2 separate regions of the Homo sapiens genome follow, and region 2 is linked to region 1. The links come from fine-mapping of genetic effects on gene expression. A gene starts in region 1. The other region holds a variant in brackets. All regions are shown on one strand. Distances are from middle to middle.

The links. PIP is the estimated chance that this variant, and not a neighbour inherited with it, causes the effect. A credible set is the group of variants that fine-mapping cannot tell apart.
Region 2: its variant is the best candidate, but not a certain one, in a credible set for the expression of SNRPG in whole blood (INTERVAL, PIP 0.59).

The regions. Positions count from the first base shown.
Region 1 is chr2:70,291,619-70,295,618 of GRCh38, reverse strand. SNRPG (small nuclear ribonucleoprotein polypeptide G) reads left to right here and starts at 1,879. Exons shown (of 4, transcript NM_003096.4): 1 at 1,879-2,001. The coding sequence starts at 1,970. LOC124906023 (a long non-coding RNA gene) reads right to left here and starts at 1,717. Exons shown (of 2, transcript XR_007086880.1): 1 at 1,687-1,717; 2 at 1-561. RefSeq lists enhancers at 1,718-2,197, 2,214-3,121.
Region 2 is chr2:70,250,306-70,254,830 of GRCh38, reverse strand. MIR1285-2 (microRNA 1285-2) reads left to right here and starts at 1,826; the gene lies at 1,826-1,913. It also overlaps the pseudogene RPL39P15. The variant T/A (reference allele first, on the strand shown) is at 2,013.

The DNA of each region.
Region 1 (4,000 bases):
TGCAAAATATGTGATGAGTTTAAGTCTTTACTATCATTGATATTTATATAGAGCCATTCCAGAATATCAGGAATTAACTGAATTTTTGAGAACTATCCCCTATTTAAACACAAGGTATTCTATTTTGGTTTAGTCTTCTATAATTTTGGGGTAACAACTGGGAACAAGTCCGAGACCACTTTTTACACATCTTGACATGAAAAAAGAACACCTTATATTAGAAAATGTTTGTGTGCTGCACTTCACATTTTATATACAGGGGCAATAGCACATCAGTGAGTTCTGGAGGTAGTGTTTGAAAAATTTCAGAATTCCCAGGCATGCTGGCTAACCCCTGTAATCTCAGCACTTTGGGAGCCGGAGGCAGGCAGATCTCTTGAGGCCAGGAATTTGAGAACAGCCTGGGCAACAAAGCAAGACCTCGTCTCTACAAAAAAAAATTAGCTGGGTGCAGTGGCGTGCGCCTGTAGTCTCAACAACTCAGGAGGCTGAGGTGGAAGGATTGCTTGAGGCCAGGAGTTCGAGGTTGCAGTGAGCCATGATCACACCATGCTCCCCAGCCTAGGCGACAGAGCAAGAACTCATCTCAAAAAAAATTTTTTTTGCAAGACCCCTCAGTCAGAAATAGATTCAAATTCTTGGAGACAGACCCAGTCACCTTACTCTACAATGGTTCAGAGGCTGCTAATTTACATGTTACGGGAACCCTACTTGGTCTGACAGTATGCTGTAGGGTTACCTGCCAAAAAAATATAGAGGCCCAGCCGGGAGCGGGGGCTCACGCCTGTAATCCCAGCACTTTGGGAGGCCGAGGCCAGCGGATCACGAGGTCAGGAGATCAAGACCATCCTGGCTAACACAGTGAAATACGGTGTCTACTAAAAATACAAAAAATCAGCCCGGCGTGGTGGCGGGCACCTGTTGTCCCAGCTACTCGGGAGGCTGAGGCAGGAGAATGGCGTGAACCCGGGAGGCAGAGCTTGCAGTGAGCCGAGATCGCGCCACTGCACTCCAGCCTGGGCGACAGAGCAAGACTCCGTCTCAAAAAAATATACATATATAGAGAGAGGCCCATTCCTCCAGGGATCATTATCATTTGGTATATTGGTATATATGAAGAAAATAAGCGATACGATCCACAGACATGCGGGATTGGCCGGGTTTGCCCAGGAGCTAGAGACGGGACCGTTATCTCAATATCTCAATTTTATTTTTTAAATAGAGAAGGGGTCTCGCTATGTTGCACAGGCTGGTCTCGAACTCCTGGGCTCAAGAGATCCAAAGTTCTGGGATTTACGGCGCCCGGCTTTTTTTATTTATTTATTTATTTTTATTTATTTTGGCTGTTCCATAGACAAGAGCAGGGATAACCGGCTGGGCGCGGTAGCTCACGCCTGTAATCCTAGCACTTTGGGAGGCCGAGGCGGGCGGATAACGAGGTCAGGAGATCGAGACCATCCTGGCTAACACGGCGAAACCCCGTCTCTACTAAAAAATACACAAAATTAGCCGGGCATGGTGGCGGGCGCCTGTAGTCCCAGCTATTCGGGTGGCTGAGGCAGGAGAATGGCGTGAGGCCGGGAGGCGGAGCTTGCAGTGAGCCGAGATCGCGCCACTGCACTCCAGCCTGGGCGACAGAGCTAGACTCCGTCTCAAAAAGAAAAGAAAAAGAGCAGGGATACCCACCGGTGGAATACCCGTTATCTCAATTTTGTACAAGGAAAACGGAATTCAGAAAGGTGCCTAGAGGACGCACCCCTCCGTCCTGGCCAATCGCTGAGGACATAACCGGAAGCTCAACGATGACCGAGGCGCTGAGATATCGCGAGGTGAAATGTAAAAACTGCCAACAATCCATTGGCTAACGAGGTCGATGACGCCAGACGCAAGACGCCGGGCCTACAGCGGGAGCGTGAGGAAAGCCGTGCGTTGCGTTCCAAGGCATCTGTGAGCCCGCGGAGTATACACCATGAGCAAAGCTCACCCTCCCGAGTTGAAAAAGTAAGTATGTGTGAGAGCCAAACCGAAGTGGTCAGTTATTTGCGTCCTGCGAGTCCCTTGGTTCCCTCTCCGTTAGCCGAATGTCTTGAGCCGCTTCACTTCATTTCTTCTTCCGGTCCGAGGTCGCCGGGATCCCGGCCAGGCTCCCGCGCATGAGACGTGAAGCCCGCGCAGAGCTCGCGCGTCGGTGTGGTTACAGCCGGCAGCCACGGCACCTCCTTCCGGCCGACTAGTCTCCAGGTCCCGCGGTCTGGCCCCTGGTCACCCGGCGCTGTCCCTCGTTCCTTGAAGATCTCCAGTGCTACCTTTTGTTGAACATCTCGAATAGTATCATGTTCTAGATAGACGGCTAGAGGGGGAAATTCTCTGAAGGAACTAAGGAGGGGCTGGAAGGGAAGGAAGTGTTTTTAAAACTACGTGAGGCATCAGAATCCGAAAGCCACTTTAGTCTTAGCAAATGTGTTTGTAGGTGTTTGAGCTTTTACTTAGAAACCTCATTCCTTTTTCTTGCCTTCTTTTACGTTAAGCTTGAATGTCATGTGTTATCTTGCTCTGATGTTGAAACTATATAAGAACATTCATTTTTCTTTTTTTTTAAGAACATTAATTTTTTCTAGTCAGAGAAGGCTAATTTTTTGAAGTTTTTTCTACACACCCAGTAAAGTCAAACAACTTTAAGTAGGAGAGCCTTACTTTAGGTAGGACTCAACGTAAAGCTTTGAATTCCTCAAATACTTTTTGAGTGGACTTAACAGGTTATGTGTTTCCTGACTACGTTTCTGTTTTGCTTATACTTCCTGATGCTGGAATTCTACATGTATTAGTTGGATTGCACAAAGGATGCAAAATTTTTACAGGGATCAGTTTTTTCTGGCGTAGCATGTGGTTGGCTTTGTGTATAGTTAGTTCATTTATTACCAGGCCCATGGAAGTCAGACAAAAGGTAAAGTTCCTATTTAATAATTTTGCGGCCGGGCACAGTGGCTCACGCCTGTAATCCCAGCACTTTGGGAGGCTGAGGCGGGAGGATCACCTGAGGTCAGGAGTTCGAGACCAGCCTGGCCAACATGGTGAAACCCCCGTCTCTACTAAAAATACAAAAAATTAGCCAGGCAGGTGGTGTGCGCCTGTAGTCTCAGCTATTCCGGAGGTTGAGGCAGGAGAATCGCTTGAACCCGGGAAGCGGAGGTTGCAGTGAGTCAAGATCGCGCCATTGCCCTCCAGCCTGGGTAACAAGACCGAAACTCTGTTTCAAAAAATAATAATATTTTTGCATTTAAAGGTCCATTTGTATCAAAGCCATCTTTTGTATGAAAACTACTTCTATGTATATTTTAGTTAGGTCTGTTAAGGAATTAATTATTAAAACATAAGCCCAACGCGGTGGCTCACGCCTGTAATCCCAGCACTTTGGGAGGCCGAGGCGGGCGGATCACGAGGTCAGGAGATGGAGATCATCATGGCTAAAACGGTGAAACCCCGTGTCTATAAAAATACAAAAAATTACGTGGGCTTGGTGGCGGGCGCTTGTAGTCCCAGCTACTCGGGAGGCTGAGGCAGGAGAATGGCGTGAACCCGGGAGGCGGAGCTTGCAGTGAGCCGAGATCGCGCCACTGCACTCCAGCCTGGGCAACAGAGCGAGACTCCGTCTCAAAAAAAAAAAAAAAAATAGAAGTTACTCAGAAATTATTGTGAAAATTACTCTTTTTATCTGAAAGTTATTTTTGGTGATGTAAGTATCCTCTGGATTCATCAGGGACTGGTGAAATGGTGATTTTTTTTTTTTTAACAAAAAGACCATTCTCTACTTGTAATCTAAGATTTTCTTTCTGATTCATAACATAGTTTTTGAAAATTTCAGAGAAGGAAGCTAGTTTTAATACCTTTCTCTTCCTCGTAGGTTTCATGAATTGTGAAATCCGGTCAGATCTGCCGCCAAAATGACTTAAAAATTTTTTCTTCCTCTGCTTTCTCACAGATAGCATCTTCTTTTACACCA
Region 2 (4,525 bases), 41 kb after region 1:
AACCAAAACCTCGGAAGGGTAGAGGAAAACTCTTTTTTTCTCCCCAACATACCATACAATAGAACATTATGCATGCATTAAAAGGAAGCCAGGCACGGTGGCTCACGCCTGTAATCCCAGCACTCTGGGAGACCAAGGCAGGCAGAATATCTGAGGTCAGGAGTTCAAGACCAGCCTGGCCAACGTGGCAAAACTCTGCCTCTACTAAGAATACAAAAATTAGCTGGGCGTGGTGATGCATGCCTGTAATCCCACCTACTTGGGAGGTTGAGGCAGGAGAATCACTTGAACTTGGGAGGCCAAGGTTGCAGTGAGCTGAGATTGCACCACTGCACTCCAACCTGACAGGCTGATCTCAAAAAAAAAAAAAATTACAAAAAAAGAATGTTGGAGCTTGGCGCAGTGGCTCACACCTGTAATCCCAGCACTTTGGGAGGCTGAAGCAGGCAGATCACCTGAGGTCAGGAATTTGAGACCAGGCTGGTCAACATGGTGAAACCCTGTCTCTACTACTAAAAATATAAAAATCAGCCAGGCGTGGTAGCGCACACCTGTAATCCCAGCTACTCAGGAACGCTGAGACAGGACAATTGCTTGAACCCAGGAGGCAGAGGCTGCAGTGAGCCAAGATTACGCCACTGCACTCCAACCTGGGCGACAGAGTGAGACTCCGTCTCAAAAAAAAAAAAAATGGGTCTATAACTAATGTCCTAGTATTATCAGTTGAGAAAAGCTTGTGGTTGCATGATGGGTATAAAATGATCTCATGCCTCTTTTCCTTTCTCTGCCATCGTGGTGTGTTCTTGACTCCACCCTCACCATGTCTTCTCACAAGACTTTCAGGATTAAGTGATTCCTGCCCAAGAAACAAAAGCAAAATCGTCCCATTCCCCAGTGGATTCGGATGAAAACTGGAAATAAAATCAGGTACAACTCCAAAAGGAGACATTGGAGAAGAACCAAGCTGGGTCTATAAGGAATTGTACATGAGATGGCACACATATTTATGCTGTCTGAAGGTCACGATCACGTTACCATATCAAGCTGAAAATGTCACCCCTATCTGGAGAGTTCGACGTGTTTTCCTCTCCGAATCTGTTATGAACGCATTGGTTGGCTGGGTTCAGTAATAAATATGTGAGGCCTTTCATTTAAAAAAAAAAAGTCTCATTTCTGTAATTACAATACTTCACCCAAACAAACAAACAAAAATAACTAGTACATGAACATGAAGAACAATATAGATGAGAAGAAAATAGGTTGGATACAAAATAAAGTTAAACTTGGAGAAAGAGGCTGGGCTCAGTGGCTCACACCTGTAATCCCAGCACTTTGGGAGGCTAGGGCAGGCGGACGATTTGAGCCCAGGGTTCGAGACCAGCCTGAGCAAAATGGCGAAACCCCGTTTCTACGAAAAAATACAAAAAAATTAGCCTGGCATGGTGGTGTGCACCTGTAGTCCCAGCTACTCAGGAGGCTGAGGCAGGAGGATCACCTGAGCCTGGGAGGTAGAGGCTGAGGTGAGCAGTGATTGTGGTACTGCATTCCAGTCTGGGCACAGAGTGAGACTCTGCCCCCCAACCTCCAAAAAAAAAAAAAAAAAAAAAAAAGGTACATGTACCAGGATACAACTGCAACATTATTTGTAATACAATAGGTTTTTGAAAAGTAGTAACCTGAATATCCATCAATGCCAGTTATGGTAATTTATTCAATTTACCATTCAATACATTGGGGAACTTTCATTTTATGGACGATTTTGCAACTATTAAAAAACTATTAGGCCAGGACTGGGCGCAGTGGCTCACACCTGTAATTCCAGCATTTTGGGAGGCCGAGGCTGGTGCATCACTTGAGCCCAGCAATTTGAGACCAATCTGGGCAACAAAGTGAGACCTCCGTCTCTACAAAGAATACAAAAATTAGCTGGGCGTGGGCCGGGCATGGTGGCTCATGCCTGTAATCCCAGCACTTTGGGAGGCCGAGGCAGGCGGATGACCTGAGGTCAGGAA[T/A]TCGAGACCAGCCTGGCCAATATGGTGAAACCCCATCTCTACTAAAAATACAAAAATTGGCCGGGTGTGGTGGCAGGCGCTTGTAATCCCAGCAACTCAGGAGGCTGAGGCAGGAGAATTGCTTGAACCCGGGAGGTGGAGGTTGCAGTGAGCTGAGATCGAGCCATTGCACTCCAGCCTGGGCAACAAGAGTGAAACTCTATCTCAAAAAAAAAAAAAAATTAGCCAGGCATGGTGGCACGTGCCTGTAGTCCCAGCTACTCAGGAGGCTAAGGTAGCAGGAACACCTGAGCCTGGAGGCAGAGGCTGCAGTGAGCTGACATCATTGCCACTGCACTCCAGCCTGGGCAACAGAGCGAGACCCTGTCTCAAAAAAAAAAAAAAAAAAAAAAGCCCGGCGCAGTGGCTCACACCTGTAATCCCAGCATTTTGGGAGGCCAAGGTGGGCGGATCACTTGAGGTTAGGAGTTTGAGACCAGACAGTCCAACATGGTGACACCCCATCTCTACTAAAAAATGCAAAAATTAGCGGGGCATGCTGGCCCACGCCTGTAATCTCAGCTACTAGGCGGGCTGAGGCAGGAAAATCGCTTGAACCTGGGAGGCAGAGGTTGCAGTGAGCTGAGATCAGGCGGGTGGATCATTTGAAGTCAGGAGTTTGAGACCAGCCTGGCCATCATGGTGAAATCCTGTCTCTACTAAAAATAAAAAAAAATTAGGCCGGGCATGGTGGCTCACGCCTGTAATCCCAGCACTTTGGGAGGCCGAGGCAGGCAGATCATCTGAGGTCAGGAATTCAAGACCAGCCTGACCAACACGGAGAAACCCCATCTCTACTAAAAATATAAAATTAGCCGGGCATGGTGGCACATGCCTGTAATCCCACCTACTCGGGAGGCTGAGGCAGGAGAATCGCTTGAACCCGGGAGGTGGAGGTGGCAGTGAGCCGAGATCATGCCATTGCACTCCAGCCTGGGCAACAAGAGCGAAACTCTGTCTCAAAAAAAAAAACTAGCCAGGTGTGGTGGCTCACACCTGTAATCCCAACTACTCTGGAGGCTGAGGCACAAGAAACGCTTGAGCCCAGGAGACAGAGTTCACAGTGAGCCAAGACACTGTCACTCTGGGTGACACTCTGTAAAAAAAAAACAAAAAACAAAAAAAAAAACCCTAAAAATCCCAAGTGTATACATGTGCATCTGTATAGAGTAAAATGTGGAATATTACAGATGAATCTATTAATATTACTTACCTCAAAAGGAGGAAGAAGATACATTTTTAATATTTTCCTTATGTATCCATTTCATTTCATTTGTAACACTAAGCACGTTGTACTTTTGTAACTTAAAAACTACTTTAAAAAAAGTACTTGTGCAATATCCATATAATGGAGTTTTATTTGGGAATAAAAAGGAATGAAGTACCGATACACGTTACAACATAGATGACCCTGAAAAGCATAATGTTAAGTGAAATAAGTCAGTTACAAGAAACCATATATTACATGCTTCCATTTATATGAAATGTCTAGAATAGGCAAATCTATAGGGGCAGAAAGACTAGTGGCTGGGACATGGAATGGGATGAGGGACAGGGAGTGTCTGCTAATTGCTACGGGTTTCCTTTTTGAGGTGAAGAAAATGTTATAAAATTGATTGTGGTGATTGTTGCACACACACCTCTGTGAATAAACTAAAAACCATTAAACTGAAAAACACTTTATATGGATGTCCCAAAAAGGTGTTTTTAAAACACCATCCCCATTAACATTTGTTTTATTCACCATCAAAAGACTAGTACTTGATATCTTTGAAAATAATCTGAAGAATGTGTCAGAGACTCTAAAGACAATTCCAAAAATGAAAAATCCAGAATGTATACAGTCTGAAGAAACTACTTTAAAGAGGACATCACGTTTTTGTTTTTTTGGTGTTTTGTTTTGTTTTTGAGGAGTCTTGCTCTGTGGCCCAGGGGCTCACTGCAACCTCCGACTCCCGGGTTCAAGTGATTCTCCTCCTACCTCAGCCTCCCGAGTAGCCGGGATTACAGACATGTGCCGCCACATCTGGCTAATTTTTGTATTTTAAAGTAGAGACGGGGTTTCTCCATGTTGGCCACGCTGGTCTTGAACTCCTGAGCTCTAGTGATCTGCCTGCCTCGGTCTCCCAAAGACTGGGATTACAGGCGTGAGCCGCCCCGCTCAGCCGACATCACGTTTTTCGATGTGTAAATTCTCCTATGTTTAAAAAATATTTCTACAACTTAAATAAACTTACATCATAGATATTTTCCAGTTCAACACTACAGATCTGATTAATAGCTTTTCAATAACTGCAAAATAGTCCATAAAATGAATGTTCCATCTGGGGGCAGCGGCTCACGTCTGTTATCTCAGCACTTTGGGAGGCTAAGGCAGGCAGATCACCTGAGGTCAGGAGTTCAAGACCAGCCTGGCCAACATGGCAAAACCCTGTCTCTACTAAAATACAAAAATTAGTTAGGCTAATTTAGGT